4 separate regions of the Homo sapiens genome follow, and all the other regions are linked to region 1. Evidence: fine-mapped expression QTL. A gene starts in region 1. Each other region holds a variant in brackets. All regions are shown on one strand. Distances are from middle to middle.

What was found. PIP is the estimated chance that this variant, and not a neighbour inherited with it, causes the effect. A credible set is the group of variants that fine-mapping cannot tell apart.
Region 2: its variant is the best candidate, but not a certain one, in a credible set for the expression of PTGR2 in subcutaneous fat (TwinsUK, PIP 0.71).
Region 3: its variant is the best candidate, but not a certain one, in a credible set for the expression of PTGR2 in tibial nerve (GTEx, PIP 0.57).
Region 4: its variant is the best candidate, but not a certain one, in a credible set for the expression of PTGR2 in lung (GTEx, PIP 0.59).

Annotation. Positions count from the first base shown.
Region 1 is chr14:73,848,590-73,856,386 of GRCh38, reverse strand. PTGR2 (prostaglandin reductase 2) reads right to left here and starts at 4,556. Exons shown (of 10, transcript NM_001146154.2): 1 at 4,444-4,556. RefSeq lists an enhancer at 4,761-4,810 and a silencer at 4,420-4,822.
Region 2 is chr14:73,965,044-73,972,840 of GRCh38, reverse strand. It overlaps ENTPD5 (ectonucleoside triphosphate diphosphohydrolase 5 (inactive)), which reads left to right. Exons shown (of 16, transcript NM_001249.5): 14 at 933-989; 15 at 2,716-2,831; 16 at 5,827-7,797. The coding sequence ends at 5,913. Among named protein-coding and RNA genes, the nearest start is that of COQ6, 19 kb to the right of the region's middle. The variant AG/G (reference allele first, on the strand shown) is at 4,415.
Region 3 is chr14:73,999,219-74,007,015 of GRCh38, reverse strand. All of the region lies in intron 3 of ENTPD5 (ectonucleoside triphosphate diphosphohydrolase 5 (inactive)), which reads left to right. It also overlaps the pseudogene RPL41P4. Among named protein-coding and RNA genes, the nearest start is that of ENTPD5, 16 kb to the left of the region's middle. The variant G/C (reference allele first, on the strand shown) is at 4,092.
Region 4 is chr14:74,218,604-74,226,400 of GRCh38, reverse strand. No RefSeq gene overlaps it. Among named protein-coding and RNA genes, the nearest start is that of VSX2, 17 kb to the left of the region's middle. The variant G/A (reference allele first, on the strand shown) is at 4,216.

The DNA.
Region 1 (7,797 bases):
GTAGTCCCAGCTACTTGGGAGGCTGAGGCAGGAGAATCGCTTGAACCCTGGAGGTGGAGATTGCAGTGAGCCAAGATTGCGCCACTGCACTCCAGTCTGGGTGACGAGTGAAACTCCGCCTCAAAAAAAACAACAACAAAAAAGATTTTAAAATGGTATACCTATATAGGGTAACTTACCATGAATGGAGCCTACCAGATTAGAAGTTGCTCTGGATGAGTCAGGGAGTGAGTGGTGAGGGAATGTGAAAGCCTAGGACATTACTGTAGGCTACTTAGACTTTATTAACACTATGCACTTAGACTACACTAAATTTCTTTCTTTTTTTTTTGAAACAGAGTCTTGCTCTGTCGCCCAGGCTGGAGTGCAGTGGCGCAATCTCAGCTCACTGCAACCTCTGCCTTCCAGATTCAAGCGATTCTCCTGCCTCAGCCTCCCAAGTAGCTGGGATTACAGGTGCGTGCCACCATGCCCGGCTAATTTTTGTATTTTTAGTAGAGACGGGGTTTCACCATGTTGGTCAGGCTGTTCTCAAACTCCTGACCTCATGATCCACCCGCCTCGGCCTCCCAAAGTGCTGGGATTACAGGCATGAGCCACCGCGCCCGGCCCCACTAAATTTCTTAAAAAATAAAGTAATACTCCGGGCGTGGTGGCTCATGCCTGTAATCCCAGCACTTTGGGAGGCTGAGGCAGGTGCATCATTTAAGGTCAGGAGTTCACAACCAGCCTGACCAACATGGTGAAACCCTGTCTCTACTAAACATACAAAAATCAGCCAGGCATGGTGGTGCACGCCTGTAATCCCAGCTACTCAGAGACTGAGGCAGGAGAATTGCTTGAACTCAAGAGGTGGAGGTTGCGGTGAGCCGAGATCACGCCACTGTACTCCAGTCTGGGTGACAGAGTGAGACCCTGTCTCAATAAATAAATAATAAAAATAAAGTAATTGCACTATAACGTTCTGATGACTATGACATCACCAGGCAAGAGGAATTTTTCAATTCCATTATAATGTTATGGGAGGCTCATCGTCTGTCATTGTCTGAACCGTCATTATATGGCAAATGACTATAACCCAGCCATCACAGATTTAAACATAAACACTATGCCATTATTACACCTAATAGTAGTACTGGCAATTCCTTATCATCATCTAATACCTAGTGCATATTCAAATTTCCTGACGTTTCAGGATGTTCAAAGATATCTTTTTACAGTTGGTTTCAAAAATGTTTCAAAGATGTCTTTTTACAGTTGGTTCATTAAAATCAGGATTCAAGGTCCACATACTACAGTTTGAGTCTCCCTTCCATTTATTTCATGCCCTTGATTTGTTTCTTCATTACTTTGCTTGTAGAATGTTCTTTGATTGCTTCCTCATGGTGTCATTTACCATCACAAGGTAAATGACTAGCTTTTAAAGAAAGAAGGAAATGTTTCTTCTATCTCCTCCCCTTATCCATGACTGCTAGTTACATCTAGAGGCTTGATTACTTCAGGTTCAATTTTTCAGGCAAGAATCTTTAAGGGTGGTGCCACATCCATTCATCACACCAAGAGGTCCATAATGTCATGTAGGGCTACATATGTTTTAAAAAGGAAACTTTCTACAGAATCACCATATGTGTCAATTATATAAGGATTAAAAAGCCAAAGTTTTCCAAATTAAGTGGGTCTAAAAGTCCTTAAGTAGTAATAGAACCATAATGGCTAAATTTTCAAAGCAGTCTTTCCAAATGAAATATCATATTTGCCCTCTAATTACTGTCAATGGTATGCTTTATTTGTTTAACATATTAATATGTATATTATAGATTTGTCCAAACACTGCTTATCAGCATGAAAAATATACTATTAAAGTTCTCTCACTCTGCATTAAATTAGAAACTTTTCAAGTGTCAAATACTACAATTAATATAGGATAATTGTGTGATATCCCTCAATAGTACCAAAAAAACACACATTTCAAATATAGATAACTTGGCTGGGCACGGTGGCTCACACCTGTAATCCTAGCACTTTGGGAGGCTGAGGCAGGTGGATCACTTGAGGTCAGGAGTTTGAGACCAGCCTGGCCAACATGGTGAAACTCTGCCCTACTAAAAATACAAAAATTAACCAGGCGTGGTGGCGGGTGCCTGTAATCCCAGCTACTCCGGAGGCTGAGGCAGGAGAATCACTTGAACCTGGGAAGCGGAGGTTGCAGTGAGCCGAAACTGATCCATTGCACTCAAGCCTGGGGGACAAGAGCGAAACTTTGTCTCAAAAAAATAAATAAATAATAAAAATAAATAAAATATAGATACCTAGATTTAGTCATAAAATTAACAGCTAAAATAAGACACATCAAGTTCCAAGATCTGAAAGAAGGGTAGATTGTTAAATTCATCCCAAGTAGGGGAAAAAAACTCAGCAAATCCTATTTGCCTGGGATACTATTCCTACTTGGTGCTAATATTCCAAAATAATAACAGACGAATTTGCTCCGATGTGATGATAGAGTGTGTTGAGTGTTTACCTTGCAGCCTGGTAAAAGGGAAAGGTCATTTAAGTAGGAAGAACAGAGTACTTCTCCTAGTTCTAACCAGGTGGGAACTTGGAAAAAGTCCCTTCTCTCAACCTGTTTCCTTAATATTCCTAAATGCCAGGAACTGAGCACAGACTCATTCACTAGCCTGTTTAAACCACCTCCCCCACCCTCACCCCAAAAAAACTGTGAGGTTGGTAATATCATCCTCTCAATTTTATAGATGAGAAAAGGGGCCGGGTATGGTGGCTCAGGCCTGTAATCCCAGCACTTTGGGAAGCTGAGGTGGGCAGATCACTTGAGGTCAGGAGTTTGAGACCAGCTCCGACAAAACGGCGAAACCCCACCTCTACTAAAAATACAAAAATCAGCCCGGCGTGGTGGCGGGCGCCTGTAATCCCAGCTACTCTGGAGGCTGAGGCTGGGGAATCGCTTTAAACCGGGAGGTGGAGGTTGCAGTGAGCCGAGATCACGCCATTGCACTCCAGCATGGGCGACAAGAGCGAAACTCCATCTCAAAAAAAAAGAAAAAAGAGAAGAAAAAAGAGGTACAGAAAGAGAATAATTCGCCCAGAGTCGCCCAACTTGTAATAACGCTAGAACCCATACTCCAACACGGCACCTGCTATTTCCATCACATGAGCTTCCTAATACCTTTTAATACCCTTATTTCGTGCGATTATTCTGCCACTAGCAACCCTGTTGACCACGCCTTGTTATAAAACGTATCTTTCTGGGCCCAGAGCCGTGGCTCACACCTGTAATTCCAGCACTTTGGGAGGCTGAGGTGGGAGGCTCACTTGAGGCCAGGAATTCGAGACCAGTCTGGCCAACATGGGAAAACCCCGCTCTACTAAAAATACAAAAATTAAGCGTGGTGGTGGGCGCCTATAGTCCCAGCTACACAGGAGGCTGAAGCTGGAGAACTGCCTGAACCCAGGAGACTGAGGCTGCAGTGAGCCGAGATCCAGCCAGGACACTCCAGCCTGGGCAACAGAGCGAGACTTTGTCTCAAAAAACAAACAAACAAACCACGTGTCTTTCTGGATCTCTCTGCCAGTCTTCTCCTCCCCTTCCGGTTTTCTGGTCTCCCCCTTCCCCTCCCGAAGTCTTGCATGTGGAGATTCCTATCTTGCTCTTCCCTTTCTCAGTGACCTCCCTGAGCCCTGTGGCTCCTCCTACCAACCACTTTATATGGAAATTAATAATAATTTGCGTCTCTAGCCCAGAATTTCAAACTAACTGCCCAGCTCGTCAGCGCTAAGAGGATAAGGACTCGTCTGCTTTGTTCAATGATGTGAATCCAGGCCGGGCGCGATGGCTCACGCCTGTAATCCCAGCACTCTGAGAGGCCGAGGCAGGCAGATCACGAGGTCAGGAGATCAAGACCATCCTGGCTAACACGGTGAAATCTCGTCTCTACCAAAAATACAAAAAATTATCCGGGCGCAGTAGTAATCCCAGCTACTCGGGAGGCTGAGGCAGGAGAATCGCTTGAACCCGAGAGATGGAGGCTGCAGTGAGCCGAGATCGCGCCACTGCACTCCAACCTGGGCGACAGACAGAGCGAGACTCCGTCACACACACAAAAAAATGTGAGTCCAATCCCCTATGCCCGGCGCATGGTACGTGCTCAACAAATCTGTGTTAAATGAAAGTTTCAGAGGCACCTCAAACACAATTACGTCAAAACCTCAGGTTGCTTTCCCCCAGTAATTCAAAAAAAACCCCAAAACCTGCTTCTGTTTCTCGAGCATTCCCTATCTCAGTGTTGCGGGCAATAACGCCAGTGTCCCCGGTAGCTCCGGGAGGACGCCTAGAAGTCACCCTGGTTGAGAGTCTTCTTCCTCACCGCTGGGGCCCGAAGCAGCTTCGGGAGCCACAGTCGCGGGAGCCGCTCGCGCGTCACTGACCCTGTGGAGCCCGGGTGAACGAAATCTCGCGTGATTTGCCGGAAAGAGGCTGTACTGCACGACCCCAGCTCGCCCCCAGGCCTCGGCCCTCTGACCGCAGTACGCAGGCGCGCGACTAGGCCCGGCTCCGCGCCCCCTCCCCTCCCAGGGGCGGGGTTTGGAAGCTTAGGGATTGGAAGTTTAGGATTCCTGGGCGCCCCACGTTTCCGGGAGAAGCAAGGGAAATGCGGAACGTCAGGGGAGAGTTACTAGTCTGGGCAAAGTGCATTAATAACTTAACTGAGATTGGTTCCTTGTGGCCGCCCCTACTGCCTTGACCCAAAGAGCAAATCTTGCAGCCTTGACCAGTGAGTTCACATTTAGCAGTCCGTGAAGAAGTTTTATTAGTTTTGTGGATTTCTCCCTGAACCTCGATTGGGAAATTATAGTGAGACAGGGACCGTCAAGCCTACTCCTTGTTTTATAGATGGGGAAACTGAGTCTCGGAGAGCTGATGTGATTGGACCACCTACCTTTCAGCTGGTTAGGGGCAGTGCTGGGATAAAACCCCTCTCTCCGGACCCTAATCCAGGGCCCCTTTGCGCCTCTTTTATTTCACGAAGAATACCAAATTCCTCCAAGATTACCAGTGTGGGCTGATTTCTCAATTTCATTCATCGTTAGTCGTCTCCTTTTGTGCTGGACTGGGTTGAGAGAAGTGTATACCTAGGACAGCTTCGGATCCCCAGGGACTTCAAACCCTAAGAAAGATCATCTGAATTAGGCAGGTATAAGAATTGCTTGTATTCATGTGGGAGCTAATAGCTCAGCACAAGTCATGCATGGAGTAGCTGAAAGATGACTAGGTTGGTGAGCAAGGGAATAGTGATCAAACAGGTTGGAGTTCCTGGTAGCTTTATGTCTGAATATTTTTGCTTCTTTGGGAAAGCTTCAGGAAGGACTAGGAGAATTACACTACTTTGCAAACATTTTCAGACAGGAGCTAATCTCTTTTATCTGTCATGGACAGGTAGACAGACCTTCAATGCCTTTTGTAATGACTTAAACCAAATGATGAAAAATAAAATGCTCAAATAGACAAAAAGTAGTAGTATAAAATAAAGGTAATCTAGAACTTGATTTAAAAGAAACACTTTCAAAATAGAAAAGAAGCCCTGCAATATTAAATTAGTTTTGGGGCTGGACGCAGTGGCTCACGCCTGTAATCTCAGACCTTTGGGAGGCAGAGGCAGGTGGATTGCTTGAGTCAGGAGTTCGAGACCAGCCTGGGCAACGTGGTGAAACCGCATTTCTTCAAAAAATAAAAAATAAAATGAAATTAGCTAGGTGTGGTGGTGCTTGCTGGTAGTCTCTCAGCTGCTCAGTAGGCTGCAGCGAGCCTTGATCACACCACTGCACTCCAGCCTGGGTGACAGACTGATACCTTGTCTCAAAAATTTTAAATATATGTATGTGTATTAATTAGTTTTAGCTCTCTTGATTCTAGGGTCTGTGAACTCCTTGTAACAAGTGTGATTTTTCTCGCCAAAATGAGTTCCCAAAAATTCAAGAGATGAGTAGAGGATTTATAGGTACATTTCTATCCAGTTTATCCTCTTCTTCTAAATTTTCTCTAACACCAAGGATTACTATCATTTACATAATGCGTAGTTTGAGTTGGATAATGCCTTATATGATTTTTTGCCTACATGATTTAATTTTCAAAACAGCCCTATTATTATTATTACCATTTTACGAATGAGGAAACCGAAGTTAAGCTAGTTAAGTTCTAAGTCAGGTTAAGTAACTAATAAGTAAAGGAGCAAGTTATCCTGCCTGAGTCCAAGCACCTGACCCTTTGTTATATTTGCCATAAATCTGGAATTCCCTACTCCTCCCTCTTTGCAGAACTTTGTACTGCCTCCTTCTCATCGTTCAAGCAATTCCTGAGAATCATTTTCTTTTTTTTCTTTTTTCTTTTCTTTTTTTTTTTTTTTTTTTTTGAGACGGAGTCTCTCTCTGTCGCCCAGGCTGGAGTGCAGTGGCACGATCTCGGCCTACTGCAACCTCTGCCTCCCGGGTTCAAGCAATTGAGCCTACTGAGTAGCTGGAACTACAGGTGCATGCCACCACACCCAGCTAATTTTTGTATTTTTAGTAGAAATGGGGTTTCATCATGTCGGCCAGGCTGGTCTCAAACTCCTGACCTCAGGTGATCCACCTGCCTTGGCCTCCCAAAGTGCTGGGATTAAAGGCATGAGCCACCACGCCCAGCCCTGAGAATCATTTTCTAGACTTCACTAGAAGGAAGTGTCAATTCTTCTCATCTCCATCTTATCAAAAAAAAATACATAGTATATATTGTTTCATTCAAGCATGATAAATATAGGCCAGGTGCAGTGGCTCACACTCATAATTCCAGCACTTAGGGAGGCGAGACAGGAGGATCACTTGAGGCCAGAAGTTTCAGACCAGCCTGGGCAACATAGGAGACCCCTATCTCTACAAAAAACAAACAACAACCAAAAAAAAAAACAAAAAGAAAAAAAATAGCCAGGTGTGGTGGCACACACCTGCAGTCCCAGCAGCTACTCATGAGGCTGAGGCAGGAGGATCGCTTAAACCCAGGAATTCCAAGTTGCAGCTAGCTATGATCTCATCACTACATTCCACCCTAGGTGCCAGAGTAAGACTTTGTCTCAAAAAAAGAAAAAAAAAAAAAAAAAAAGCCAGGCACTGTGGCTCAAACCTGTAATCCCAGAACTTTGGTAGGCCAAGAGGTAGGAAGATCGATTGAGCCCAGGAGTTCAACACCAGCCTAGGCAACATGGCAAAACCCACCTCTACAAAAAATTTTAAAAATTAGCCTGGTGTGATGTGTGTGCCTGTTGTCTCAGCTGCTTGACAGACTGAGGTGTGAGGATCACTTGAGCCCAGGAGGGCGAGGCTGCAGTGAGCTGTGTTTGCACCACTGCACTCCAGCCTGGGCAACAGAATGAGATTCTGTCTCTTAAAAAAAAAAATGCATAATAAATATAAATACTTGGCCGAGCGCAGTGACTCACGCCTGTAATCCCAGCACTTTGGGAGGCTGACGTGGGCGGATCACAAGGTCAGGAGATCAAGACCATCCTGGGTAACACGGTGAAACCCCGTCTCTACTAAAAATACAAAAAAATTAGCTGAGCGTGGTGGGGGCGCCTATAGTCCCAGCTACTCAGGAGGCTGAGGCAGGAGAATGGCATGAACCCGGGATGCAGAGCTTGCAGTGAGCAGAGATTGCACCACTGCACTCCAGCCTGGGCGACAGAGCAAGACTCCATCTCAGAAATAAATAAATAAATAAAATAAATATAAATACTTAATCTAATATGT
Region 2 (7,797 bases), 120 kb before region 1:
GGCTGTGGTGGGGAAGGTCAAGGAGAAAGAGCACTTGAGGTGCTTTGTCGGGGTGATTACCCACCTCTTTTCTAGTCACTCGAACAAAAGGGTGGAAATGACTTAGAGTCTTTTGGAGGTGAGAGATGACCAAAACAACTATATGAGGTCTTTTTTTTTTTAACATGTTTATTGAGGTATAATTGGCATACAATAAGTGCACATTTAAAGTATACAATTTAAGTTTTGTCATGTATACACCCATGAATCCATCAGCACATTGAAGATAATAAACATATTCACCACAAAAAGTTTCCTCCTGTCTCTTTATAACTTTTCTTCTTATCACAAAAGCAGTGTTTTTGCCTAACTGTGAAAGTATATGTACCTGATCTGTCATGGCCTGAGAGAGATGAATTAATTTCCTATTATTGTGGGGGTTTTGTTGTTGTTGTTGTTTTGGTTTTTTGTTTGTTTGTTTGTTTTTTGAGACAGAGTCTCACTCTGTTACCCAGGCTGGAGTGCAATGGCATGATCTAGGCTCACTGCAACCTCTGCCTCCCGGGTTCAACCGATTCTCCTGCCCCAGTCTCCTGAGTAGCTGGGATTACAGGTGCCTGCCACCACACCCGGCTAATTTTTTTTTTAATAGAGACGAGGTTTCACCATGTTGGTCAGGCTGGTCTTGAACTCCTGACCTCGTTATCTGCCTTCCTCGGCCTCCCAAAGTGCTGGGATTACAGGCATGAGCCACCACACCCGGCCTATTGTGTTTTATGGGTCTGTTTTTTCCATTGTGGTTAAATATACATAACATGGAATAGATTGTAAATAAGTAAATTAGGTTGCATAGATTACATTATGTACATGTGTATATAATGAATGAATGAATGAATTTCCTTATGCTTCCTTGAAGGCGTTTTGATATCAGATAATCTTCTGTTTTATTTCAGATTATGAAAAGGGGGGTATTTTAAAAGTTGAAGATTTTGAAAGAAAAGCCAGGGAAGGTAAGTGTCAGGGGAAGCCCTTGAAGGTAAGCCTGTGAGACTGCCTGCCTACTCTAGTGACCTAAAGTGACCTAAAGCACCTCAGTCAGCTCAGAAGGCCTATCAGAAGGCTAGTTTCCTTTCTGAGTCTTCCAGTCTTTGCTAAAAGTTAAAAGCATTGGGTGGTAGCCAGGCATGGTGGCACGCATCTGTAGTCCCAGCTACTCAGGGCGGGAGGATTGCTTGAGGCCAGAAATTCAAGGTTATAGTGCACTATAATCACACCTGTGAACAGTCACTGCATTGCAGCTTAGGCAACATAGTGAGACCTCTGTCTCTAAAAAAATAAATTTTTTTTCAGCTTTATGCAGCATAGAATTATGGGCAAGAATATGGGAATACAAGAGGTTTTAGGAGGCCGGGCACGGTGGCTCACGCCTGTAATCCCAGCATTTTGGGAGGCCAAGGTGGGCGGATCACCTGAGGTCAGGAGTTCAAGACAGCCTGGCCAACATGGTGAAACCCCATCTCTACTAAAAATACAAAAATTAGCCAAGGAAGGTGGCAGGCGCCTGTAATCCCAGCTACTCGGGAGGCTGAGGTAGGAGAATCGCTTGAACCTGGGAGGCAGAGGTTGTAGTGAGCCAAGGTTGTGCCACTGCACTCCAGCCTGAGCAACAGAGTGAGACTCCACCTCAAAAAAAAAAAAACAAAGAGGCTTTAGGGCTTTAGGGAAATGGTGAAGACCTTTTTTTTCCTTCTACATTTCTTGCTTTCTTTTTTAAATTGAAATAGTGTTATCAGTGTTAATGAAACACTAAGCATCAAAAGACATGGTAAATAGCCACAGAGGCTTCCTTGAGAGGATCAAAACTACCAAGAGAGCTAGGCACAGTGGTTCGACCTGTAGTCTCAGCTACTTGGGAGGCTGAGGCAGGAGGATCGTGTGAACCCAGGAGCTTGAGGCTGCAGGGAGCTGTGATCATGCCACTGCACTCCACCCTGGGTGACAGCATGAGACCTTGTCTCTAAAAAAAAAAATTAATAAAAAGTTTTTAAAAATTAAAAAATAAAATACAAATGATCTTATCGAGTAGCCCACAGTAGGGTTAAATGATATTTCCCTGTCTTCTGGGCCTCACCATTAATAATAGATAAGGGATTTAGAACTAAGCCCCCACAATAGGTCATAGAAACTTAGCAAATAAACTAGAGCCCATGTAAATGTGAATAGATAATCATACCAGAGATGTGCAAGTTCTTCAGAAGCTGCGGTCTTACAGAGGCAGTCAGTGCAGTCTAGTCTCTGAGATGCCTAAGCATTAACCAAAGGGAGACTTCTGCTTTGCTTATTCTTCTTCTCCCCCTACCTTTTTTTTTTGAGACAGAGTCTTGCTCTGTCACCCAGGCTGGAGTGCAGTGGTGAGATCTCGGCTCACTGCAACCTCTGCCTTCCAGGTTCAAGCGATTCTCCTGCCTCAGCCTCCCGAGTAGCTGGGATTACAGCGGTACACCACCACGCCCTGCTAATTTTTGTATTTTTAGTAGAGATGGGGTTTCACCACGTTGGCCAGGCTGATCTCAAACTCCTGACCTCAGGTGATCCACCCGCCTCAGCCTCCCAAAGTGCTAGGATTACAGGCGTGAGCCACCGCGCCTGGCCCCTATTCCACTTCTTTCTAAGAGAAAATCCTACACCTCTCAGTTAGTTGCAAACTTGAGCTCCACTGTTTACTCTCTCTTTCAGTGTGTGATAACTTGGAAAACTTCACCTCAGGCAGTCCTTTCCTGTGCATGGATCTCAGCTACATCACAGCCCTGTTAAAGGATGGCTTTGGCTTTGCAGACAGCACAGTCTTACAGGTAAGAGACAGGACACCAGAGTCTCATAACAGCCCTCTTTTGTGGGGGTTGAGAAGGAGTAAGAGCTTGTTCAGTAATCAGAGTAGCTAGAAGTGAAATTATGAGGTATTTTTGTTTGGGCTATGGACAAGGTACTGTGCTGGGCACCATGAATGTGGGAAATTATCTCAATGCAATGGTAGCCTCCGAGTGTATTACCAGGCAAGCTATCGCACAGGTCACAGAACAGAAAGACTAGCAGCCCAAATTAAGATGCCAAGTCACATGGTTTATTTATTTATTTATTTATTTATTATTATTTTTTTGAGATGGAGTCTCGCTCTTGTTTCCTGGGCTGGAGTGCAATGGCATGATCTCAGCTCACTGCAACCTTCGCCTCCTGGGTTCAAGCGATTCTTCTGCCTCAGCCTCCCAAGTAGCTGGGATTACAGGCATGCGCCACCACTCCTGGCTAATTTTTTTGTATTTTTATTGGAGATGGGGTTTCACTATGTTGGCCAGGCTGGTCTCGAACTCCTGAGAACTCCTGACCTCAGGTGATCCGCCCACCTCGAACTCCCAAGTGCTGGGATTACAGGCGTGAGCCACTGCACCCGGCCCACATGGTTTATTAAATCAGTTTAGAACTCAGGGTGAGAAGCAAGGGGAAAGAGTTGGAGAGGTGAACACAGAAGACACGGTGCAAGCAGGATGCAAGTGCCACACTCTCTGAATCTTGGGTTCCATTTGTCCTAGGTTTATATGTCCTGCCTGTCTCTGCTGCTAATAGAGTGGTTACACATACTAGAGCTGAAGTTCGGTCATGGGAGCACAAAGACAAAAGGTGCCTGAGGCCACCACACAAACTTGCCCTATTTGGAGAGGCCCCAGGGGCACACACACATGGCCATTTGCATTAGCTCAGTCATTAGCCTATAAGATGGGTTTTCTTTGGCAGAGGACATGAGAGACCAAGAGGGTGTCACCAGTGAGTGGCTTATTTAAGGCCTCATGAACACTGAATGCCTCATGCATATGTAATGTGTCATATATATTTCATGTGTGCCTCGTATATTTAATGCCTCTTGAATCTTAGGTCTTTCTTTGTCCTCCTGTCTCTCTCCATCTGTTTCAGTACCTGCAGGCTCTACTTTATCTGTAGTAAGTTATTTATCCCCAGTTTTGGGCACAGTGTCTAGGCTCTATTACATCAGGTCAACACAGAACAATCAACTGGTTTATAGACTTTTTTGGTGGTGGTAGCATCTTTATCCAACAAAAACTTATGTAGAATATCAGTAATACAGCCGGGCCTGATGGCTCACGCCTGTAATCCTAACACTTTGGGAGGCTGAGGCGGGCGGATCACCTGAGGTCAGGAGTTCGAGACCAGCCTAGCCAACATGGTGAAACCCCGTCTCTACTAAAAATACAAAAATTAGCCGGGCGTGGTGGCAGGTGCCTGTAATCCCAGCTACTTGGGAGGCTGAGGCAGGAGAATCACTTGAACCTGGGAGGCAGAGGTTCCAATGAGGAGAGATCATACCATTGCACTCCAGCCTTGGCAACAAAGAGCGAAACTCCGTCTCAAAAAAAAAAAAAAA[AG/G]AGTATCAGTAATATAAAACTGGTAAAAGTGGAACTATTCTGGTTGAAGCAGAGATTGGGGGCCTGAAACTCCTCTATCATTTGGCCTCCCTTTTTCCTTCGAAGCATTTCTAAGAAACCCCTAAAATTCTGAAGAAAACAAATTGATAAACCGATAAACACTAATCTAATCCTCTTCTTATATAGTTGAGGAATTTGGGTCTAAAGTTTTGCCCAAGGTCACTAAGCTAATTGAGATATGTACTGGCTTAGAATGTCTTAAGTTCCCTGTTTGATTATTTTTTTCTTTTCTTTTTCTTTTGAGACCAAGTTTCGCTCTTGTTGCCCAGGCTGGAGTGCAATGGTGCAATCTCAGCTCACTGCAACCTCCACCTCCCGGGTTCAACTGATTCTCCTGCCTCAGCCTCCGAAGTAGCTGGGATTACAGGCATGCGCCACCATGCCTGGCTAATTTTGTATTTTTAGTAGACACGGGGTTTCACCATGTTGGCCAGGCTATTCTCAAACTTCTGATCTCAGGTGATCCACCCGCCTCAGCCTCCCAAAGTGCTAGAATTATAGGCATGAGCCACCACTCCTGGCCTTTTTTGTTCGTTTCTTTTTTTTTCTTTTTTTTTTTTTTTTTTGAGACAGGGTCTTGCTCTGTCACCCATGCTGGAGTGCAGTGGCATGATCTCAGTTCACTGCAACCTCTGCCTCCCGGGTTCAAGTGACCCTCCCACCTCAGCCCTCTGAGTAGCTGGGATTACAGGTGTGTGCCACCACTCTTGTCTAATTTTTTTGTAGAGACGGGGTTTTGCCATGTTGCCCAGGCTGGTCTTGAACTCCTGGCCTCAAGCAATCCACCTGCCTTGGCCTCCCAAAGTGCCAGGAGTACAGGCATGAGCCACTGCGCCTGGCCCCATGTTTGGTTATTATTAGTGCTTAGGAAGAGGCACTTGCTTACATAGTAGGAGTTGAGAAGCTTGGTTTGTTCTTTCCTACCCCTAGATCTATTCTCACCTCCTGACCATGCTCTTTCTGCCACATCTATTATCATTACAAGTTGCCTTATCTGAAATTAGTGAATCAGAAAATAAAGCAGGGGATACTTTGTGTAGTTTCAACGTTAGGGAAAGTTCAGAATACTGTCTGTCTAAACTATCTCTCTAGAAGGCCTGATGGGCCACAACCTGGGCCAGAAGCATTCAGTTCAGATATGAGAATGGTGGGTGTAGGGGCAATGGCCAATGGGCCATGGCCGGAAGGAAATTGTTACAGAGTAGTGGGAAGCCTGCAAAGACTGGCTTCTGTCCGTTTTGCCTTGGTTTGCCCATGTGGATATTCTTTGCCAATATTTTCTGCCCAAGAGCTGTGCTTGCTAGAGTTGGAAACTGGATGAAAAGGTGAAGACTTTTTTTCTTCTCAACAGCTCACAAAGAAAGTGAACAACATAGAGACGGGCTGGGCCTTGGGGGCCACCTTTCACCTGTTGCAGTCTCTGGGCATCTCCCATTGAGGCCACGTACTTCCTTGGAGACCTGCATTTGCCAACACCTTTTTAAGGGGAGGAGAGAGCACTTAGTTTCTGAACTAGTCTGGGGACATCCTGGACTTGAGCCTAGAGATTTAGGTTTAATTAATTTTACACATCTAATGTGAACTGCTGCCTAACCACTCAAGAGTACACAGCTGGCACCAGAGCATCACAGAGAGCCCTGTGAGCCAAAAAGTATAGTTTTGGAACTTAACCTTGGAGTGAGAGCCCAGGGACAGGTCCCTGGAAACCAAAGAAAAATCGCATTTCAACCCTTTGAGTGCCTCATTCCACTGAATATTTAAATTTTCCTCTTAAATGGTAAACTGACTTATTGCAATCCCAAGACCCATCAATATCAGTATTTTTTTCCTCCCTATACAGTGCCCTGCCCACCCTTATCTGCACCCACCTCCCCTGAAAAAGAGAGAAAAAAAAAAACCTGGTTTTGCTTTCCATGTATAATTCAACAACGCAAAATGGGACCATGTCAGAATCTGTATGATCCTATTCTGTGTTAGCTCCAATCAGCCAGCTGAGAGCCATCCTAAATATTAATAGGATGAGAGAGTAACTCCTAACTGTGCATAAATTACAGCCTTAAGAAAGAAGGCCACCCGGTCTCTGGGGACATGTTTTGGGAGGGTGTGGCTGCCTCATATAGCCTACCTTTGCTTTAATCAGCATTTTATCAGTCAACTCTGGGATTAATGAACATATCCGACTTTATGGGTATGTGTATATTCAGTGCCAGTACCACCTCCCAGGCTAATGTGTTAACAGTGTTTTCTATGATTCTAAACTTGTTTTCTTTGTATTTCTAAGAAATACAACTAGGCCCTAACTTTTGGTCTGTGGTCAGAGGTCAGTGTCTGTGCTATTCCAGGATCTATTATTTCAGTTTGCCCTTTTATTCTCTCCGTTTGTAACAGTACCTTCCTGTCCTGGTCCCTGATCACTTTAGCTAATATCCTTTGAATTATTTATCTAGTTCAGAGTTTCCAATACCGTTCCTGACAAAACCCCACTTGGATTTGGTTGGCTCTCTCAGCCCACATCAGTACAGTGGACCAACATTTCCAGGGAGAACCATATTTAATGTCCCTCATGCTCTCTTTTTGAATCCAAGTGCTCAGAGCTCTTGACTGTGAATTATTTACCCCAAATTCATTATCTTGCACTTTTTTTTGAGATGGAGTCTTGCTCTGTTGCTCAGGCTAGAGTGGAGTGGCGCAATCTCAGCTCACTGCAACCTCCGCCCCCAGGTTCAAGCGATTCTTGTTCTCAGCCTCCTGAAGAGCTGGGATTACAGGTGCCCACCACCATTCCTGGCTAATTTTTGTATTTGTAGTAGAGATGGGGTTTCACCATGTTGGCCAGGCTGGTTTCCAACTCCTGATCTCAATTGATCCACCCGCTTCCCAAAGTGCTGGGATTACAGGCATGAGACACCGCGCCTGGCCTTATCTTGCACTTTCAACATAATCATCCCTGCTTCTCATCTGCCCTGCAGTGCTCTTGGACCTGGAAGATCTCCCTGTGGTCTGGCCCCTTTGCCTTGGTTGTTAACCTCCAGCTTCTTTGCAGGAGTGTATTTCCCCAAAACTTGTGGCTTTCACAGTAGACTCCGTTTCCATCCTCTCTCTCACAAAGGATGTTAAGTATGCCTGGCCCTCACACAGTCCATGGGAAACCTTATTTTTAACATTACTCCATTGAGTCAATAAATATTTACCATCTGCTGTGTGCAAGTTACTAGGCAAATTTCTGTATCCTTGTCCCTAAAATTCTTGTCTTTAAATTCATTGTGGAATTTCTTTAGACTTCACACTGACTTTTATTACTAAGGTCACCTTTATACCAACT
Region 3 (7,797 bases), 150 kb before region 1:
TCTTTGTTGATTTAGTGTTTAATTTCAGATTTATTATTTAATTCTTAACTGATATGTATCTTCAAAACAAATACAGTGACTCATTTATTTTCTTCCTACTCTTTCTTAACTATATCTGACTTTTAGTTGAATAATAGGTGGGGTAGCTCAGGCCTGTAATCCTAATGCTTTGGGAGACTGAGGTGGGAGGATCTCATGAAGCCAGGGGTTTGAGACCAGCCTGGGCAACATAGCAAGACTCCATCTCTATAAAAAATTTGAAAATTCACTGGGCATGGTGGCTCATTCCTGTAGTCTAGCTAGTCAGGAGGCTAAGGCAAGAGGATCATTTGAGCTCAGGAGGTGAAGGTTGCAGTGAGCTGTGTCTGCACCACTGCACTTGAGCCTAGGTGATAAAGCAAGACATCTTCTCATTTAAAAAAAAAAAAAAAAGGGCCGGGTGTGGTGGCTCACACCTGTAATATCAGCACTTTGGGAGGCCGAGGCGGGCGGATCACGAGGTCAGGAGATCGAGACCATCCTGGCTAACACAGTGAAACCCCGTCTCTGCTAAAAATACAAAAAATTAGCCGGGCGTGGCGGCGGGCACCTGTAGTCCCAGCTACTCGGGAGGCTGAGGCAGGAGAATGGTGTGAACCCGGGAAGCGGAGCTTGCAGTGAGCCGAGATTGTGCCACTGCACTCCTGCCTGGGCAGCAGAGCGAGACTCCGTCTCAAAAAAAAAAAAAAAAAGGCTTGGCGAGGTGGCTAATGCCTGTAATCCCAGCACTTTGGGAGTCCAAGGTAGGTGGATCACCTGAGATGATCACCAGCCTGACTAACATGGAGAAACCCCGCTTTGTCTCTACTAAAAATACAAAATTTGCTGGGCTTGGTGGTGTATGCCTGTAATCCCAGCTACTTTGGAGGCTGAGGCAGGAGAATCTCTTGAACCTGGGAGGCAGAGGTTGTGGTGAGCCAAGATCATGCCATTGCACTCCAGCCTGGGGAACAAGAGTAAAACTCCATCTCAAAAAAAACAAAAAGGTATTTAAATTTCTTTTCACCTTTAGAAACAAGAAGTACATTGTGTGAGTTGTAGTTTTTCTGACTTTAATTCTTTTCCTTAAGTAAAATATTAGGACTATAACAGAAGATGGAAGTTAAAAGTCAAGTCAGCATTGTTGTTCATTTTGTTTGTTTATTTGTTTTGTTTTTTATTTATTTTTTTGAAATGGAGTCCTGCTCTGTCTCCCAGGCTGGAGTGCAGTGGCATGATCTCAGCTTACCGCAACCTCTGCCTCCTGGGTTCTAGCGATCCTCCTACCTCAGCCTCCCAAGTAGCTGGGATTACAGGCGTGCACCACACACCCAGCTAATTTTTGTATTTTTAGTAGAGATGGGGATTCACCATGTTGGCCAGACTGGTCTTGAACTCCTGACCTCAGGTGATCCACTCCCCTCAGCCTCCCGAAGTGCTGGGATTACAGGCGTGAGCCACCGCACCTGGCCAGTTGTTCATTTTTAAGAGTTAATAGCAGCCGATGTGATGGCTCACACCTGTAATCCTAGCATGTTGAGAGGCCAAGGTGGAGGATTGCTTGAGGCCAGGAGTTTGAGAGCAATCTGACAAACATAGTGAAACCCTGCCTATATTTCTTTTCTTTTTTTTTGAGACCGAGTCTTGCTCTCTCACCCAGGCAGGCATGAGCCACCACGCCTGGTTTATTTCTTTTTTTCTTTTTTTCTTTTTTTCTTTTTTTTTTTTTTTTGAGACTGAGTCTCACCCTATCGCCCAGGCTGGAGTGCAATGGTGCGATCTCAGCTCACTGCAACCTCCATCTCCCGGGTTCAAGCAATTCTCCTGCCTCAGCCTCCCGAGTAGCTGGGATTACAGGCATGTCCCATCATGCCCAGCTAACCTGGCTTATTTCTATATATTATTTTTTTCTAAGAATAAACAAATGAACAAAAACAGTTAATATCATTGGAATAACATGCAGGTCCTAAAATAAGAAGTATGTAAGATGTGTTTATTGAAATATATATATGGTATACTGGAAAAAAAACCCCACAAAATATTACACAAATACTGGTTACAGCTTACAGTAGCCAGCCTCCAAGATGCCCCCCAGTGATGCTCACCTCCTAATATTCATGCCTTTGTGTAGTCCCCTTTTACAGTTCGTCAGGGTTGGTCTGTATGAGCATTAGAATATAGGGATATGATAGTGTATGACTTCCAAAACAAAGTCATAAAAGACATTACTGCTTCTGCCCTGCTCTTCTTGGATTGACTGCTCTGGAGGAAGCCAGCCACTGGGTTATAAAGACATTCAAGCAGCCCTATGGAGGATCTACACGGGGAGCTACTGAGACTTCCTGCCCACAGCTGGCATCAACTTGCCAACCATTGAGTGAGCCATCTTGGAGGTGGGTCTTCCAGGCCTAGTCAAGCCTTCAGATTGACTGCAGCCCCAGCCTACATCTTGACTGCAATCTCATGAGAGCCTCAGAGCCAAAACTGTCTAATTAAACCACTCTCAGAGTCCCAAACCACAGAAATAATGAGATAGGCCGGGCGCAATGGCTCACACCTGTAATCTCAGCACTTTGGGAGGCCAACGCAGGTGGATCACCTGAGGTCAGGAGTTTGAGCCTGGCCAATATGGCGAAACCCCGTCTCTACTAGAAATACAAAAATTAGCCGGGTGTGGTGGGGGGTGCCTGTAGTCCCAGCTACTTCGGAGGCTGTGACAGGAGAATCACTTGAACCCAGGAGGCAGAGGTTGCAGTGAGCCAAGATCACGCCACTGCACTGCAACCTGGGCAATAGAGGGAGACTCTGTCTCAAAAAAATAAAAAAGGGATGAGATAATAAATATTTTTATTGCTTAATACATGTATTTATTTACTTAATTAATTTATTTTTTGAGACAGGGTCTTGCTCTGTCACCCATGCTGGAGTGCAGTGGCATGATTCTAGCTCACTGCAGCTTCGAACTCCTGGGCTTAAGTGATCCTTCTGCCTCAGCCTCCCAAGTAGCTGGGACTGCAAGTGTGCACTGCCATGCCTGGCTAATTTTTTCATTAAAAAAAAATTTTTTTTAATAGGGTTTTGCTGTGTTGCCCAGGCTGGTCTCAAACTCCTGGGCTCCAGTGATCCTCCTGCCTTAGCCTCCCAAGTGTTGGGATTTACAGGCATGAGGCACCATGCCCAGCCAATTTTTTTTTTCTTTTTTTCTTTTTCTTTTTTTTTGATTCTTCAGCTAAGACAGCAGAAGAGATGATTTATCGTATGGTTGTTATACTCGGCCACAAGTAAACACAGAAATAGTCCAGAATGTCCCAGGTCCAGGGCAGAGGACCAACATGGGCAGTTTTGGTTATGAGCAAGGTGGGTCTCAGAGGTGATCAGCGATCAGAGGGCGGTGAAGTTCTGGATCCATTGAGACAAGCTCTACACAATAGCATGCAGTCCCACAACTTGTACCAGCATCCCCAGCATCTGGCATTCCATGTTTCTGCTCCTGTGTGGCCTCCACGGTGCAACAAGCTAGCGGTTTACTTGGACCTCTGCCTCATCTTTCTTCTTTTGTGCTTCAGACTGCACATTCGCTTTTTCCTCCACTTAGCTCTCATGATGCAGAGGTTTCCAAGAAAATGGCGCTAAGGCTGAGAGAAACCCTAGCCCATTTCTATTGTCAGTTTTTATTGAATTCCACCTTGGACGCTCTTCTAGGTTCTTGGGTTACACCAGTAAACAAAAAGATTTCTGCTCTTGAGGAGCTTATATTCTATCAGAGGAACACAGACAATAAATATCAGTAAGCTTTCCAGTATGTTAGAATGTGATAAGTGGTGTGGAAAAAAGAAAAGTGGATCAGAGTAAGGGGAGTTGAGAAAGCAGGTAGAGGTGGGAGCATGTGAAGGTGAGAGGTTATAGTATTAAGTAGATCTCAATAAGAAAGTGATTTTTAAACAAGTATTTGAAGGAGTTGCAGGAATTCATCAAGTGGATATATAGGAAAAGAATTTCTAGGCAGTGGGGACAGCTTAGAGCGAAGGCCCTAAGGCAGGGGCATGAGTGAATAAGCGCAGAGGTCAGTGTTG[G/C]GGGAGAGTAAGGTGAAAACTATTAGTAGATGGGGTCAGAGATGTAGTGGGGATGGAAGCAGAAGGCTATTTTCAGGACCTTGTTTCTCTGAAATGGGGAGCCAGTGCTGGATTTTGCATAAAACAGAGACATACTCTAATTTATATTAAAGGATGACTTTGGTTGTTTGTTAAAAGGAGACAAACTCCAGGGGAGTGAGGATAAAAGCAGGAAGATCTGTTAGGACAATATTAGCAAATCACATGAAAGATGATAGTGGCTTGGGCGAAGGTGGTAGCAATGGAAGTGGTCAGAAATGGTCGGATTCTGGAAATGTATTCAACAGCAGGAAATTAAGATCTTCAAAATCTCTTGATTAGCTGGGCACAGTGGCTCAACCCTGTTATCCCAGCTATTCAGGAGGCTGAGGCTAGAGGATTGCATGAGGCCAGGAGTTCAAGACCAGCCTGGGTAACATAGTGAGACTCCATCTCTACATAAATAAATAAATAAGCTCTTGATTTTATGTAAGAAGGTCAGACTGCTGTAAGACTTTCACATCCTGATGGAAGTCTCACTTTCCAGCCTCATCTCAGACCATTCTCTGCTCTACACTCGCCTCCCCACTCCCATATCTGTCTTTTCCAAGAGCCCTGTTAGATAATCCTTCTTGGGTGGCCTACTAGTTAAGACTGTGGCTCTGGAATTAAACCATCTGGGTTTGATTTCTGGCTCATTTCATTTAACTACGATGTGGTCTTAAGATACTTAGTTTCTCTAAGCTCAGTTTTCTCATTTATAAAATGGGAATCTTAATAATAGCACCTAACTCACAGAGCAGTAATGTGAGATTAAATGAGCTAATCTATGTAGAATACTTAACATCATGCTTGGCATCTACTAAGATCTCCGTAAATATTGGTTACTATTTTTTTAAAATCTCAGATTATGTTTCTTTGACCACAATCTTTATCCTCTGCATTAAATGCTAACCCTCTTCTTCTATATCCTCTTTCACTAGTTTTCTACTTTTTGTTTCTCAAATTCATATAAAAAATTCTTGAGGACATTGGCTTTTAATTATTATTATTTGAGACAGGGTCTCACTCTGTCGCATAGGCTGGAGTACAGTGGTGCCGTGCAATCACAGTTCACCTCAGCCTCCACTTCTCAGGCTCAAATGATCCTCATACCTCAGCCTCCTGAATAGTTGAGACTACAGGTGTGTACCACCATGCCTGGCTTTTTTTTTTTTTTTTTTTTTTTTTTTTTTTTTTTGAGATGAGGTCTTGCTCTCTCGCCAGGCTGGAGTGTAGTGGCATGATCTCGGCTCACTGCAACCTCCGCCTCCCAGGTTCAAGCGATTCTCCTGCCTCAGCCTCCCGAGTAGCTCGGACTACAGGTGCCCGCCACCATGCCTGGCTAATTTTTTTCTTTTTTTTTGGGATGGAGTCTTGCTCTGTTGCCCAGGCTGGAGTGCAGTGGTGCAATCTCGGCTCACTGCAAGCTCGGCCTCCCAGGTTCACGTCATTCTCCTGCCTAACCCTCCCGAGTAGCTGGGACTATAGGCACCCGCCATCACACCCAGCTAATTTTTTGTATTTTTAGTAGAGACGGGATTTCACCGTGTTAACCAGGATGGTCTCGATCTCTTGACCTCGTGATCCGCTTGCCTTGGCCTCCCAAAGTGCTGGGATTACAGGCATGAGCCACTGCGCCCAGACACACCCTGCTAATTTTTTAATATTTTGTAGAGATAGCATTTCACTATGTTGCCCAGGCTAGTCTCAAACTCTTGGGGTCAAGCAATCCTCCCACTTTGGCCTCCCAAAGTGCTAGGATTACAGGCATGAGTCATCATACCTGGCCTCGCTATTTTTAATTTTTATACGGATAGGGTCTCACTGTGTTGTCCAAGCTGGACTTGCACTCCTTGGCTGAAGTGACCCTCTTTCCTCAGCCTCCTGAGTACCTGGGACTATGGTCACGTGCCACTCCATATGGCTCTTGAGGAAATTTTTAAATGAAATCAAACGATACTTTTCCTATCATCTTTTTCTAATCTCTCTGGTCTTTATACACATCTGGTCTCTATTATTTCTGTAGTTATTTCTGTCCATTTTTCATGATTGCTTACATGTCATTTCATTTTTTTTGTTGTTGTTTTGAGACAGGTTCTTGCTCTGTTGCCCAGGCTGGAGTGCAGTGGCATGATCTCGGCTCCCTGCAGCCTCGCCTCCCAGGTTCAAGCAATTCTCCCACCTCAGCCTCCTGAGTAGCTGGGATTACAGGCACACCACCACGCCTGGACAATTTTTGTATTTTTAGTAGAGATGGGGTTTCACCATATTGGCCAGGCTGGTCCTGAACTCTTGACCTCAGGTGATCCACCCTCCTCGGCCTCCCAAAGTGTTGGGATTACAGGCGTGAGCCACTGTGCCCAGCCATTTCTTTTATATATGCTTATATATATATTTTTTAAATTGAGACGGGGTTCAGTCTTGTCACCCAGGCTGGAGTACAGTGGTGCGATCTCAACTCACAGCAACCTCCACCTCCCAGGGGGCTCAAGCAATCCTCCCACCTCAGCCTCCCAAATAGCTGGGACTACAGGTGCATTCCACCATGCCTGACTAGTTTTTGTATTTTTGGTGGAGATGAGGTTTCATCATGTTGCCCAGGCTGGTCTCGAACTCCTGAGCTCAAGCAATCTGCCTGCCTTGGCCTCCCAAAGTGCTAGGATTACAGACGTGAGCCACTGTGCCTGGTCTCAAATGTCTTTTCTTGATGCGTTTCCAAATCCTCTAGGGAGTTAGTCCTGTGTTTTTGTTCCTTTACCTTTTTTTTTTTTTTTTTTGAGATGGAGTCTCGCTCTGTCGCCCAGGCTGGAGTGCAGTGACGCGACCTCGGCTAACTGCAACCTCCGCCCCCTGGGTTCAAGTGATTCTCCTGCCTCAGACCCCTGAATAGCTGGGATTACAGGTGCATGCCACCATGCCTGGCTAATTTTTAAATTTTTGGTAGAGATGGGGTTTCATCATGTTGGTCAGGCTGGTCTGGAACTCCTGACCTCATGATCCGCCCGCCTTGGCCTCCCCAAGTGCTGGGATTACAGGTGTAAGCTACTGCGCCCGGCCCTTTACCTTTTTTTTTGAGACGGAGTCTCGCCCTGTTGCCCAGTCTAGAGTGCAGTGGCTTGATCTTGGCTCACTGCAACCTCCGCCTGCCAGGTTCAAGCAATTCTCCTGCCTCACCCTCCTGAGTAGCTGGGATTACAGGCACGCGCCACTGCGCCTGGCTAATTTTTGTATATTTAGTAGAGACGGTTTTACCATGTTGGTCAGTCTGGTCTCAAACTCCTGACCTCATGATCCGCCCACCTTGGCCTCCCAAAGTGCTGGGATTACAGGAGTGAGCCACCGTGCCCGGCCTACCTTTGTTTTTTTTGGGGGGGTGGGGGGCAGAGTCTTACTCTGTCACCCAGGCTGGGGTGCAATCCTGTGATCTTGGCTCACTGCAACCTCTGCGTCCTGAGTTCAAGCAATTCTCGTTCCTCAGTCTCCTGAGTAGTTGGGATTACAGGCGCATGCCACCACACCTGGCTAATTTTTGTATTTTTAGTAGATATGGGGTTTCACCACGTTGGCCAGGCTGGTCACGAACTCCTAACTTGAGGTAATCCACCCACTTTGGCCTCCCAAAGTGCTGGGATTACAGGCGTGAGCT
Region 4 (7,797 bases), 370 kb before region 1:
CTCATTGCACTCAGTGACTGGCCAGGGACAGAGCACAGAAGCCTGTGGGTGGCAAAGGGCAAGACTGGGAGGTGGGGTGCAAATGGCTATGTTCTGGGGGGACTTGGGGTAGGAGAGAAGATGGGAAGCCTGGTAGGGTGGGGGTGGAGGGCCAGGGCCAAGGTCTCAGGAAACGGGCATCCGGGAAGACTGCCCAGAACACTGTTATGAGCCTGAAGACAGGTCGGCATTACTTGGCAAGGTGTTAGGGGGAGGAAGAGAGGGCTCCGGAGGAAGGCCTGTAACGTGAACAAAAGTGGAGAAAGGGCTCCCTTAACCTTTTCAATTCTCAGTTTTTCCTTCTGTAAAATGGGAATCTCTTTTGAAAACCTGCTCTGCAGTGAGACTGAGAGGACCCAGGGACATGATGGCGATGAAGCATGCAGACAGGCCCCCGCGCACTGTGGGTGCTGGGTCTTTCAGCCTTTCATTCTCCCCAATCTCCTCCAGGCCAAGATCACCCACAAGGGCCGGGCGCAGTGGCTCACGCTTATAATCCCAGCACTTTGGGAGGCTGAGGCAGGTGGATCACCTGAGGTCAGGAATTTGAGACCAGCCTGGCCAATATGGTGAAACCCCGTTTTTACTAAAAATACAAAAAATTAGCCTGGTGTGGTGGCGCATGCCTGTAGTCCCAGCTACTCGGGAGGCTGATTCTCCTCCTCAGGAGGAGAATCGCTTGAACCCAGGAGTTGGAGGTTACAGTGAGCCGAGATCAAGCCATTGCACTCCAGCCTGGGTGACAGAGCAAAACTCGGTCTCCAAAAATAAAAAGATCACCCACAAGGCAGCGTGGTGTAGTGGTTAATGACTCTGGCTCTTAAATTACATGGTCCTGGGCTCATGTCCCCCATTTACCACCTGCTAGCCGGTGACCTGGGAACTTAGCTTTCACCATGCCTCAGTTTCCCCTTTTTAATATGGGCCATGCAGGGAAAACTTCCTAGAGGAGGCAGCAGTGGGGCTGGACTATGAAGCTAGAATGATCACTAGCCTGCAGCAGTGAGGCCCCAGCTCCTTTGCCTGTGACCATCTCCTCCCAACGCTTTTCCACCAAATCTCAGGCTTAGGACACCCCTCTGGAAAAATCCCACCCTGCCCACCATCTCCTCATGTTTTCTTTTTCTTTTCTTTTTTCTTTTCTTTTTTCTTTTCTTTTCTTTTTCTTTTCTTTCTTTCTTCCTTTCTTCCTTCCTTTTTTTTTTTTTTTTGATGTTTTGCTCTTGTCACCCTGGTTAGAGTCCAGTGATGCACTCTCGGCTCACTGCAACCTCCGCCTCCCGGGTTCAAGTGATTCTCCTACCTCAGCCTCCAAGTAGCTGCGATTACAGGCACGTGCCACCAGGCCCAGTTAATTTTTGTATTTTTAGTAGAGACAAGGCTTCACCATGTTGGCCAGGCTGGTCTTGAATTTCTGACCTCAGGTGATCTGCCTGCCTCGGCCTCCCAAAGTGTTGGGATTACAGGCGTGAGCCACTGCGCCTGGCCATCCTCGTGTTTTCTTTTAGCCATCCTGGGAAGAAGTTGGGAAGAAGGTCACCCACTCTCACACGGCCACAGCCCAATTTTCTCTTGAAAATCGCTACTAGAATCACCATTTGTCATAGTCCAAGGGTCGGGGACAGAGTCTGGGGGAATAATTTGACGAAGGTGGGCAGGAAACCCCCCTCCCTCCCGTCGAGCCCTGCTGGAGGGAAGGACTGTGGTAGGCGCAGAGGTGAGGAGGCCAACCGAATGCAGAAACCCAGCCAGGGAAAGGTTTAGCCCCACAATCCAATTCCACTTAATATCCCATAATAGAATGCTGTCAACATGAGTTTCCTGTTCAAGTGGATTTGTTAGGAAGGCTGGGGAGGTCAGAGGTGTATTCCGGCCCTCCTGGTGTGGGGACTCCAGTAGGGTGTGTGTGGTGGGGGTTACTTGGGCACAAGGGCCCCCTCCCCACCCTCTCCCCTCAGCAAGCCAAACAGGCTCTCAGGAAGGGGTTTGTCACACTTGTCTGTACCAAGACCTCATGAGTTTGTGATGGCTTGCAGAGGGTCCTGGAGCCTCCTGAGGGAGCGTGCATCTCCTTTGAGAAGCGTCCAGCCACTAAGGCAGAGAGCAGGATATTCATGTGAAGGGATTCAGACCTTGAGCAGAAGGTGGGGAGGGGTTCCCAGTTCGGGGGAAGGTACACAGGAGGAGCCACAGGGCCAAACTTGAGGCAACCTTGGGGGGCAAGGGGCCACTTAGGGAGAACCCTGAAGATCTGGGTTGGCCTCAGCCCCCATGAGTGACAACCCAGTGGGTGACCCCACGTAGTTACTCAAACTGGCTGCTGCCTGCTCCTTCTGCCCCCCTGGCTGGCCCATTGCTAGGCGTCCTTCCTCCCAGCTGACTAAGAATCCTTTTGGGGGAGACTTCTGTGAGAGCTTGTGATCGAGCGGTCCCCGTGGATCAGACACAGTGCTGGGCCTTCCATATGCTGCTGCCTCATCAAATTCTGTGGAGCCAGGCCAGGGAGCAGCAGCAGGGGTCAAGGCTGGGGAGAAGGGCTGTGTGAGCACAGGAGCCGTTATTATCCTCATTTTCCCCAAGTAATAGGGGCTCAGGGGTTTTAAGAAACAAAACTAGGGCCAGGCGTGGTCGCTTACACCTCTAGCCTCTAATCCCAGCACTCTAGGAGGCTGAGGCCAGTGGATCACTTGAGCCCAGGAGTTTGAGACTAGCCTGGGCAACATAGCAAGATCCCATCTCTACCAAAAAAAAAAAAAAATAGAAAGGCATGGTGGTGCACACCTGTAGTGCCAGCTACTCAGGAGGTTGAGGCAGGAAGATCACTTAAGCCCAGGAGTTTGAGGCTTCAGTGAGCTGTGATTGAGTCACTGCACTCCAACCTGGGCAACAGAGTGAGGCCCTGTCTCTAAAAAATATATTTTAAATAAATAAATAGAAACAAATCAAGACCTCACATAGTAGGGGAGGGCACTGGGACAAGCATGAAGTTCTTTCTGACCCCAAAGCTGGTGCAGGAGAGATGGGGAGATGAATGAAGACTCAGTGAGAGCCTTCAGAAACCCAGCCTGCGCCTGGTCTTGGAGAGCGGATGTTGGGTGCATTTTTCTGTAAGTATCCAGGAGGGTGTGGGGCAGAAGTTGCAAGGATGAGGTCAGGCCTTGGCTCCTCTGGGGCCTGCGGGTGGGTGAGACCAGGGGAGGGGGGAATGGGCCTGGGGCCGAGGAGGGCAGGGCTGGGCCTCCGGCTCTTTTGTGAGCTGTTTTAATTCGTGTAAATGAGGGTTTTTAATTTGTTATTCTGGGTTTTATTTCTATTACCATCTCATTTGCCTGTAAACCCTATTCTGCCCCTGCCTGGACCGAATTCCATTTGATGCATTAGGACTAATTCTCCTCCCAAAGGGTTAGATGTTTTCTCCCCACACAAAAGTCGCTTATTTTGGATAAAGAGACGATTAGATTTATCTTTAATATTTTAATGGCAGCTGGGATTAGTGGGCAAACAGCCCCGACTGGGGTTGTTCACGGCGGATTAAGTTCTGATCAACTCTCAGATGGGGAGCCCCCACCCCCACCCCACTCCACTTTCTGTTTTCCACAAAGTGCTTTTTATTATTTTTTGTTGAAAAAAAAATTCCCTTGTCTTTTGGAGCATCATAAATTCCATTTGCTGTTTTCTATTAAATCAAGTTGATTAAATTCGTTGTGACTCTTTGCACATAGATCTTTTTAATTTTAACGTCTCCAGCATAAAATCTTTAATGGTGCCATTTGAAATTGCTGCAATATACAGTACAGGCCCTGAGAAAACAGATGGAAATGAGGTTCTGCCAGGGATGGGGGAGGTCCTATCAGGAGGGGTACAGTTGGGAGAAGGCACAGACCTCCAGGTGAAGGCAGGGGACTGACTCTTCCTGAGGTCCAGAGAGCCCCACGTTCTCCATTCAGCTATTTTCTAGCTTCAGGGCTTTGGCTAGGAACTTGGCCCATGCTATGGAGGGCTTGCTATGTGCCTGGCACTGTGTATGCATCGCCAGTCATCCTTACAAGGAGGCTCAGAGAGAGGTCACTTGCTCAAGGTCACGTAGCAAGTCGGTGGCAGTGGTTGAGTCCAGATTGTCTTTGCCAATAAAGCCTCATCTCCCCTTTCATCAGTAAAATGGGGGTGATCGGTTCC[G/A]CCCTGGGTCACAGGTGCTTGGAAAGATTGGATGAGGTCCACAAACTGCTTTGGGAACAGTACAGAGCTGTGCTCTCCTGGGGGGATGGAGGAGTGGGGCTGACCCATTTGGGCCTCAGAGGCTCTGCTATCACTGGGTAGAGCTGCCTTTTGAGACCCTGGGAACCTTCACTAACTCCAGGGTCTCGGCTTCCCCCCGCCCCTCAGCTCTCCAGCTCTCCGGCCTCCGGCCTCAGGCTTTTTCTCCCCGTCTCTAATCCTGACCTCATCAAGTCCTGGGAAGAGGGTTGATCCACAGGAGCAAATCCCTCATTCAGAGGGGCAAAATCAGCTTAATTTGCAGCAATTTGAAGCAGGTCTTTGCCAGGATTTGAATATCAAATTATCCCACAGCCTGGGCTGGTCTGGGAGGCCTCCCCCGGCTGCAATATGGACCGATGTGCTCAGGCTTCACCAGGGAGATTGTCCTGGGAGTGACTGAAGCTGAGGCTGTGGAGATGGGAGTGAGTGTCAGAGGGTAGTGGGCAAGGTGGGGGTCACCAGTCAGCCCCCACTGCCAGAGGGCACTGCAGCAGTGACTGAGGGACAGATGGAGTTTGGGGTCAAAACCTCCTGTTCTTGAGACTCACCGGGGGCTCTTGTCAAATGTGCGGATTCCCAGGCCCTTCTACAAACATAAGAAATCAAGATTTTCTTGACTAAGAAAGTTTAGAAAAATCCGGTGCAGCTCAGTTAGCCAATCAACAAACACTTGCTGTGCACAATCTGTACTGCCTCTCATTTTGAGAGAATCAGCCTCCTCTGGTGCCCACCCTGTTCATTCCCAGCCTCTGGTACTGTGGACAATATTTCCTTGGCTGTCTGCTCCATGATGGCCCCTGAGGCCTGAGTCAGCGGCTGCAGAGAGCTCTTCAGCCTTCCCTTCCTGGTCTGCATGCCCAACTCCTCTGGCCACCCGGCCCTTTCATTCCTTTTCTGCAAGCTCAGGCCTAGCAGACATCCTCTTATGTCAGTCACACAGGCCTCGCTGCCCAGACCTGAGCCCCGGGGCTCAGACCCCTCTCATGGGCATGTCATGAGCTGTGAGCCTCTTCAGGAAGGCCCGAGGTTGGTGAAACATTCTGGTCCCGCCACAGTGTTGTGTCCCTGTGGGCCCTGCAGTGTAAAAGTAGCAGCCAGGGATGTTGGGATGGCTTTGCGCAGGCCCACTGTCCAGCCAGCACCATCAACAGAGATGAGAGGCTCTCGGTGTGACAAGCATTATAAGAGCCACAAGTGCTTCCATTTAATTCTCACAAAATCCTATGGAGTAGGTACTATTATTATATACACCCATTGTATAGATGAGGAAACTGAGGCACAGAGAAATTAGTAACATGCCCCACCCAGGTCATACAGCAATAAGAGGTGGACCTGGGATGCATACGCAGGCAGTCTGACTCCAAACTGCTCCTCTTAACCACTTTGTTCTGTCTCCATCTATCCACCTTTACCTAAAATTTTGTCCTTCTCTATATTCTCCACAGCAATGACTTGCCTTATTTTTAAAGGCATAATCACAGTGTGTTTGGGGAGCAAAGAAAGGAGCGCATAACCTACACTAGGGCAATCACAGAGGCTTTTTGGAGGTGGTGTCTTTATTTGTTCAATGATGTGGTAGAGCAACCACTGTGTGCCCAACACTGGTGATACAGACATGAAGAAGCCATGGAGCTCACAAACGGGGGCCTGAACACCCCATCGGCAGTGCTCAGTGCACTGATGGAGAAAACACAGGGCATCGTAGAAACACTGGGGACACCCCAAAGCCCAGGAGATCAGGGAAGACTTCCTGGAGGAGAGGCACTAGTCCCCTTCACTAGATCTAGTCATTAACCTGAGGTTCAGATGGCCCAGAGGTCCCACTGGGCACACTCACCCTTCTTTGTCTCAGCCAGTCCATCCTCCGTGGACCGTCTGGACCAACCAAGCTTGAGACCCTCTCTGACCACCTGTCCTAGACAGGTAGACCCCCTCAGGGGAAGTCTGTGTTCCCTACTGCTATGTGTTCTTAGAGGCGGGGCCTGAGCAGGAACGAAACTCCTGAACCCCAGATCCTATGCCTAGCAGGGTCTGGTGTAAGTCATTGGCTGCCTTGGGAAAGCCCAGTGGTTTGATTCAAGGATGACTAGAATTTAGAGCAAAAAGGGACCCCAGAAGCCACCCAAACCTGTTTTGAAGGAAGCCACAGGAGATGCCCACGCCCCACAGCTCAGAGATGCTGCAAATTCCAGCCTCCCAGTGCCCTATCTTCTCTCTGGGGTGGTCTAGCCCCACCTGGCACTCCCCCAGTCTTTGTCCCCGTGTCTGCCTTGCCTGATGGTGGCCAGGGGGCCTTTCCGGAATAACGATGGTATTGGCTCAGATTAAGGGCAACTAGCTGGCTCTTGGCTTTTCATTTTTATATAACAACTAATCTCCTTCTAATCAGCCATTATTAAATTATATTCCATTTTTAATTCATTCACAGATCACCGTTGGGACAGCTGGATGGATAATTGGAGAGAGATAATTTATGTAAATGAGGAGCAGCAGAAGGTGGGGGAGAGGGAGGCCCAGGGCGCCAAACGGAGCCCCCTCTGTGTCCAGGCTGGGGAGGGGGCAGTGGCCTGGCTCCTCCTGGAAACCCGCGCCTGGGGATGCTGGGAGGATTGGGGGCTGCCATGGGACCTCAGGGCTCCTGACCGGTGGTTCCTGGTGTGGCCCCTCAGCATCACCTTGAACACTTTTGGCAAATGGGAAGCTCACTACTTTGGGGGCGGAGTGGCTCTCAGACATCAGCTCCCCCTTTTAGAAGCAGATCCTGAGAGGCAGAATGCCCCAGAAAATTCTGGAGTCAGAGCTGTTTTTGATTCCAACTCCACCACTGTGTGCCGTTTCCTAACCTTAGTTCCCACGTCTGCAAAACGCAGGTAATGACAGTATCTACCTCATAGAGTGCTGTGAAGCTTAAGTGCCTGGCACCTAAGGAAGAGACCAAGACAAGTACATGGTGGCTCTTATCACCCTTATAGGACAGTGTGTATCTTTCAGAATCTTCCTCTCTAACATCTGCCTTCTGGCCATGGAGCTTCCTTCTGGTAACACACAAAAGAAATCCACTTCCTTTGCATATCTGAAGACAGCTCTGTACCACTGATAATAACACTCCGGAGGCTTGTGTCTCATTGTGTCCTCCGTGTCTCATAGTGTCTCATTGTATCCTCGGAACGACTATAGAAATTGGGGGCGATTGCGTCCATTTTACAGATGAATATACTGTGGACCCAAGCTCTCTCCTGCCAATTCCTTCAACAAAAACGATAACAAGCCCCAGAAGCCTGCTTAGAAAGGAACACGAGGCTCAGAAAACCTGGATCCCAGCCGGAGGCTATTTTGGGAAGGTGCCTTGGGGACTGGCAGGCAGGGTCAGGGATGGCAGGGAAGGTGGGTGAGAGAGGTTGGACCTCCACCCTTCTTGGCTGTCCCTTTGGGGCCCCAAGAATCAGGCACGATGGGCATTCATGGGCACAGGTGGTCTGACAGAGCTTGAGGGGCAAGGTC